Homo sapiens: one gene and its partner. The protein of the gene in region 2 interacts with the protein of the main gene of each other region in a pairwise test. Each region holds a gene or a part of one and is shown on either strand. Other genes may lie near its edges.

Region 1 (3,500 bases), 4.0 Mb from region 2:
TCCCTGACACATCGAGGGGAATAACGTTAGTTAGATGATTGGTTGGCCAATAATGAATAGATGGATGATGAATGGAAAAATTAGTGCCATCTAGTGGTAAAGATCTGTAATAGCAGGAGAGCGAAGAACAGCTTGAAAGAATAAAGATGCATGCTGTAGAGAAATCACGGCACACACAGACGGATCTTTCATCTGTATCTTTGACACCGTGAAATCTTTATTCATACTGAGTCAATTTCTCAACTTAAATGTCTCTGGTCTGAAGATACTGGATCCAGAAGTCTATTTGTTCTTCTTTGTGACATGTCCTCCTATGTTACAAGGAACATTATTCCCAACTCGATGTTAGAATGTAGCTTTATTTGGTGGAAAGTTTTTCAATCTATGACTTTTTAAAAAATTATATTTATTAACTGTCAACACATCTTGAGATCTTTGAGCCTTCCAGAATCTCCCTTGTTTGCTTAAGGTTAATAAAAACCCAGTCATCCCAAAGTTTTTCCAAATCCCACATTATTTCAGGAGTCGGCAACTGTTACCTGAGTTCCATCAGCAGCTGGTGAAGTTGGGTTTGTCTCTGGAACTATCTCAGAAGGGTTTATGGGACTTCCATAATTCTTATTATCCACATTTTCAGATACAGTCACCTGTGGACATGTTAAAGGCCTTTACCCAATTTTGAAAGAATTTAGTAGTAAATAAATTTGCTGTAAAGTTTGTACCAACTCTGGCTCTTTTTGCCATCTTGTTCTCCCACAGACATCATCAGGCACCATTTTTATTGCATGACCCAGTAGGCCAGGACTAAACATCACTCCCACCGCCCCAAAATCAAGAGCAGCAACCACTAAGTCACCTCATACCTTAATCCTGGGAGGCAAATACATCCCTCACTGGTCACACTCTCACTTATTACTAGCAATTTCTACTGTATTCTCTATACCTTCTTACTCCCACTGTTGACCAAATTTTTGGATAATCATACTCTAGTTATATACTGGAAGCCAAATCCTAGAAGAACAGCAAGAATAATTCCCCAACCTCACTGATGAACTGAGAATCCTATCTTTGGATCTTAATAATTTCTTTGAATATTAATAAATCCTATCTTCGGAAATTAAGATTTCATAGTACTACTAAAAAGAGGTTGAATTTTTGAAAAGATGAGAATGATAGAATTAATAATCTTCTACGCATTTTTCTATAACATTCATACAATTCCAAGGTTCCCTTTTAAGACCAAATTACCATGAATGCATAATAAACTACAAGGTAGACAATTCACTCCTTTTCCTATATTTTCACATTCATTACTTGTTTATTCTGAAACTTGGATATGCATTTGTATACATGGCCTCATTTTATTTTAAGTGAAGATGTCAAATGAAATGTCGTATCTCTTTTATCATGTGATTAAAGTTTTCATATCTGTTTATCAGAGGATCAGGGAAAATGCTTTCAAGATTTAAACATTTCCGATCTTAAAATCACAAAATATTTGTAAAATAAACATTTCTAGTTTCTGTATTAAAATGTGCCATATCTCGAGTTCAAAAGGAGCATTAGGTGTTAACAATGACAGTTATTCATTGTCACTAAGGCCATAGTTGTTGTGACAAAGGAGATACATGTTCGCAGTTGACAAGCAGTAAAAGTGGCGCTGGGGCTATTGATGCAGACCTTATGTAAAGTTATTCCCTTCACCTATATTCCTATTTCATCTCCCAGCTCTTCTTAAAGATGACGGACTGAATCTCAAACATGCTTTCTTTACTATTCCTTTGCACCCGTCATCCCAGCCTCTCTTCACTTTCACTTAGACTGAACCTGACACCCATCAGGCTCAGCAAATTACCTGGGCTGTACTGCTGCAAAGCTTCACAGACAGCCCCCATTACTTCAGTCAAGCCCAAATTTCATCCTCATCTGTTACCTATTTCGGCATAATTCTCATAAAAACACACATGCTCTCCCTGCTGATCAAGTCTGACTAATCTCCCAAACCTCAATCCCTTCTACAAAACAACAACTCCTTTCCTTCCTAGGCATGGTTAGTGCAGTCAGAATTCTTACACAAGAGCCGGGACCGTGCCCTGTAGCCTTTCTGTCCAAACAACTTGACCTTACTGTTTTAGCCTAGCCCTCATGTCTGCGTGCAGCGGCTGCCACTGCTTTAATACTTTTAGAGGCCCTAAAAATCACAAACTATGCTCAACTCACTCTCTACAGTTCTCATAACTTCCAAAATCTATTTTCTTTCTCCCACCTGACGCATATACTGTCTGTTCCCCAGCTCCTTCAGCTGTACTCACTCTTTGTTGAGTCTCCCACAATTACCATTGTTTCTGGCCCAGACTTCAATCCAGCCTCCCACATTACTACGGATACCACACCTGACCCCCATGACTGTATCTCTCTGATCCACCTGACATTCACCCCATTTCCCCATATTTCCTTTTTTCCTGTTCCTCACCCTGAACACACTTGGTTTACTGATAGCAGTTCCACCAGGCCTAATCGCCACTCACCAGCAAAGGCAGGCTATGCTATAGTATCTTCCACATCTATCATTGAGGCTACCGCTCTGCCCCGCTCCACTACCTCTCAGCAAGCCGAACTCATTGCCTTAAGTCAAACCCTCACTCTTGCAAAGGGACTACATGTCAGTATTTATACTGACTCTATATATGCCTTCCATATCCTGCACCACCATGCAAGAGGTTTCCTCACTACACAAGGGTCCTCTATCATTAATGCGTCTTTAATAAAAACGCTTCTCAAAGCCGCTTTACTTCCAGAGGAAGCTGGAGTCATTCACTGCAAGGGCCATCAAAAAGGCATCAGATCCCATCGCTCAGGACAATGCTTATGCTGATAAATTAGCTAAAAAAGCAGCTAGCGTTCCAACTTCTGTCCCTCACAGTCAGTTTTTCTCCTTCACATTAGTCACTCCCACCTAGTCCCCCGCTGAAACTTCCACCTATCAATCTCTTCCCACACAAGGCAAATGGTTCTTAGACCAAGGAAAATATCTCCTTCCAGCCTCACAGGCCCATTCTATTCTGTCATCATTTCATAACCTCTTCCATGTAGGTTACAAGCCACTAGCCAGTCTCTTAGAACCTCTCATTTCCTTTCCATTGTGGAAATCTATCCTCAAGGAAATCACTTCTCAGTGTTCCATCTGCTATTCTACTACTCCTCAGGAATTTCTCAGGCCCCCTCCCTTCCCTACACCTCAAGCTCGGGGTTTTTCCCCCGCCCAGGACTGGCAAATTGACTTTACTCACATGCCCCAAGTCAGGAAACTAAAATACCTCTTGGTCTGGGTAGACACTTTCACAGGATAGGAAGAGGCCTTTCCCACAGGGTCTGAGAAGTCCACTGCGGTCATTTCTTCCCTTCTGTCAGACATAATTCCTCGGTTTGGCCTTCCCACCTCTATACAGTCCGACAGTGGACCGGCCTTTACTTGTCAAGTCACCCAAGCAGTTTCTCAG
Region 2 (3,500 bases):
CAGAATATATCTGTGCTGAATTTTCCTCTTAGAAGTTGATGTTCTGCTCTTAAAGCCGTATTTCCAAAATTCAGCATTTCCAAAACCAAACAGAAAATACTGCAAAAAATTATGACTAATAATAGGCTCAAAATGTTTTCCCTGCTTATATCACCGTATTTATGTTAAAGAATATGTTAAATGTAAGGCACAATGGGAAAAGAGAATCAAGAACAATCATAAAACTTGCAAACCTTCATTTTACTAGATCATACTAGTTTTAAAAAATTGTTTTTGTAGAACAATATCTCAGGGTAAGGCAAAAGTAGCACTGTATTAAGTAACAGCACTCAATAAATTACTGATTTAGTGTAAGTATTTATAGTATTTTTCATATTATTTAATATTTTCAATATCATTTAGGTTAAACTTCAGCCTGTATATGAAGAAAATCTGTACATGTATTTATACTTTGTCATCTTTATCATCTTTGGGTCATTCTTCACTCTGAATCTATTCATTGGTGTCATCATAGATAACTTCAACCAGCAGAAAAAGAAGATAAGTATTCTTTAGCTTTTACCTTTCTTCATTCTGGGGTTCTGTCTGTTAATACAGCCAAATAACCAGAATACCTGTGGTCATGACAGACTTAAATCATGTTTATATTATTTTCAGTTGCCCATGTGGTTATTTAAGCTGCAGGGATTCCAGCCTCTAGTCAGTGGCTCCTCTCAAAGTTTATCTATTGGATAGCTTTCTGACCCAAAAATGTGTCCACTCCTTCGGACCCATCCAACGGGTCTCCAGTGCTTTAGCTTGGCTTACAGAGCCTTTCAGGAATTACCTCCACCCAGTTTTCCATCTTCATTTTTTCCTACACTTCACTCTATACATGTGTATTTCCCTACTACATAGTCACCACCCATACATCTATATGAGCTTTCTGCCCTTTTCTGAACAAGCATTCTCTTGTACCTCCATGGCTTTTTGTGATTTTTTTTTATCCTGGAATGTTCCTAGAAAACCCATAATCATCTTTTAAGGCCTAGCTTAAGGGTAAGCTATGTAACAGCTTGTCTCTGAGTCTCTGAATTCATTGTTGCCTCTGCAGTACATTTAATTTTTTTGTCATATCAACATACACTGTCCACCTACGTTTTCAGTTTCCTGCTCCATTTAGAAGCAGAATACTGTATCTTATATATTTATGTAATTCTGACACCCAGCACATTGTCTAGCACACAGAAAGTGTTAAAAACTGTTGAATGAAGAAGTAAAATTATCGGCAGTGAAATGGACTAAGAAAATGTTTTCTGTTTTGCAAAAATATATTTGAGACCCTTGTGCCTACTTTTAAACATAGTATAATCAAATTAGGATCCTGTAGCGATCAGAGTTTTATGTACGTAAGGATTTTGCATAATATTAAGATATTCAGAATTTCACATAAATGGGAAAAGCAGGATAAATGTATATGTAGGAGGATAATATCCACTTAAAAATTAGAAAAGATTAAAGGAAAGACAAATATTTTTTGTGAAAGTACTATTGGAACACAGAATTGTAACCAGTTTTATACTATGTCTTTACTTTGGAGGTCAAGACATCTTTATGACAGAGGAACAGAAAAAATATTACAATGCAATGAAGAAACTTGGATCCAAGAAACCTCAGAAACCCATACCTCGCCCAGCAGTAAGAATTACTTGTCTCCTTTAATGTTCCAAAGCCATGCGTCCATATGGTCAAATTGAGCAATGCTCTGGAGCAGAACATATTAGGTGATATCACCAATATTGAGCCCTAATTATAAAGTTCATATTTTGCATCATAATTCACAACTTCTGCACTCATTAGGAGTTACCACATTCCAAAAAAAGGAGGTAATGTTCTTTATAATTTGTGAGTTGAAAACTTCTAGCTCAGGGTTCCTAATAAATACTTCCAAAGCAAGGTTCACTTTCCTGCTACCAACAGCACACCTGGTTCCTCCTCCTCTAGCCTTCCCATCCCACTCTCCAAGGCCTCCCTCTATACTCTCTGCTCCCTCCATTCTTAAGACTAGAAAATATTCCAAACCTGTTTAGAAAGGGAAAAGGTGTCATCAAAATTGTTTGTTTCACCAAATACACCAAAACAGAATAAGGCATATTCAGAATGCATACTCTGTAGAGCCTCATGATGATGGAATGATGTAATAATGACAGATTATGTTCACAGAGCTGGACTCTAACTCAGCTATTTTCTGAGATTGGTAAGGAGTAAGGAAACTGAGGCCCAAAGAACATACGAATCATGCCCCAAGTCACAAATCTTGTAATTGCCAGAACTGGGACTTGACAAGGCCCCATAAATTCTCTAAGTGACTTGACTTTACCATATTTATAAGAGTAGTTGGAGCTGGAATGTGAGGGAGCAGGGTAAGAGGGGAAAGGATTGAACTGACTTTACTAGAGTTCTTTAAAAATTAAAACATGGTCACTTCATGACCTTTGATTTTTGGTAAGCCATGAAGTTTTAAGTTTTTACTCTAAATGATTAATAATATATTTCTTTAATAAAACTGTATTTACTAGCCATATTAATATAAGAATCTTTGAAAGCATGTTGTTCCTGAGATGATTGTTAATAAGACAAAGAAAAAAAGTGTTTAAAGTCATGCATTTTTGTTAAAGCACAGGGCATAGGTAAAGAAGGACAGATGGAAAGAAATACAGATAAATTAACAAGCCCATACATAGATTCACAGAGCTAGAGAGGTAGAATTCAATAGAAATATGACTGATGTATTTCAGGGGAGGGAAATAAGGTATAAACCAAAATTTCTAAAATATTGATAAATGAATTGGTGTATTCTCTATCTAAATATCTGTTGATATTAACCTGCTTTGTAAATCTTTGTTATTAGTAGTCACTATTTTTTATAAAAATTATCATACTTATTCAAATCAAGCAAAGACTACATATATTATCAGCCAATTGTCACAAATTTATGTGTTTGTTTTTGTTTTGTTTTTTAAGAGACAGGGTCTCACTCTGTCTCTCAGGCTGGAGTACAGTGGCAAGACCATAGCTCACTGCAAGTTCAAACACCTGGGGTCAAGTGATTCACCTCAGCCTCCCTCGTAGCTGGGACTGCAAGCCTGTGCCACCATACCAGGCTAATTTTTTTTTAATAGAAATGAGGTCTCACTATGTTGCCCAGGCTGGTCTGGAACTCTTGGCCTCAAGAGAGCCTCCAGTCTCAGCCTCCTAAAGTGCTGGAATTACAGGCATGAGTTGCCACGCCCAGCCTTAATTTATGTCTCATCCAGCTTTGTCTTTCCATAGGACCTATATAAACCAAATATGCTTTGTTTAGCTATATAAATTTTTTTTCCATTTTTTTTAACATGAAGAGAAAAAAAGCACACAAAATTGTTTGGGGTAATATGAGGAGGGTGCACATCCATCCCGTATGTGGAAGGGCTTTATCTACAATTTTACTGCATTATTCTTTATGAAATATATATAGTAAC

The links. The genes of interacting proteins can lie anywhere in the genome.
Region 1: the proteins of SCN3A (region 2) and LRP2 interact in a two-hybrid assay, tested with the Homo sapiens proteins (one study listed by BioGRID).

Annotation. Positions count from the first base shown.
Region 1 is NC_000002.12:169,132,035-169,135,534, forward strand, and holds part of LRP2 (low-density lipoprotein receptor-related protein 2 precursor), read right to left. Parts: intron 648-3,500; coding exon 540-647; intron 1-539. UniProt on the Homo sapiens protein: Multiligand endocytic receptor. Acts together with CUBN to mediate endocytosis of high-density lipoproteins. Mediates receptor-mediated uptake of polybasic drugs such as aprotinin, aminoglycosides and polymyxin B.
Region 2 is NC_000002.12:165,092,551-165,096,050, reverse strand, and holds part of SCN3A (sodium channel protein type 3 subunit alpha), read left to right. Parts: intron 1-402; coding exon 403-540; intron 541-1,572; coding exon 1,573-1,677; intron 1,678-3,500. UniProt on the Homo sapiens protein: Pore-forming subunit of Nav1.3, a voltage-gated sodium (Nav) channel that directly mediates the depolarizing phase of action potentials in excitable membranes.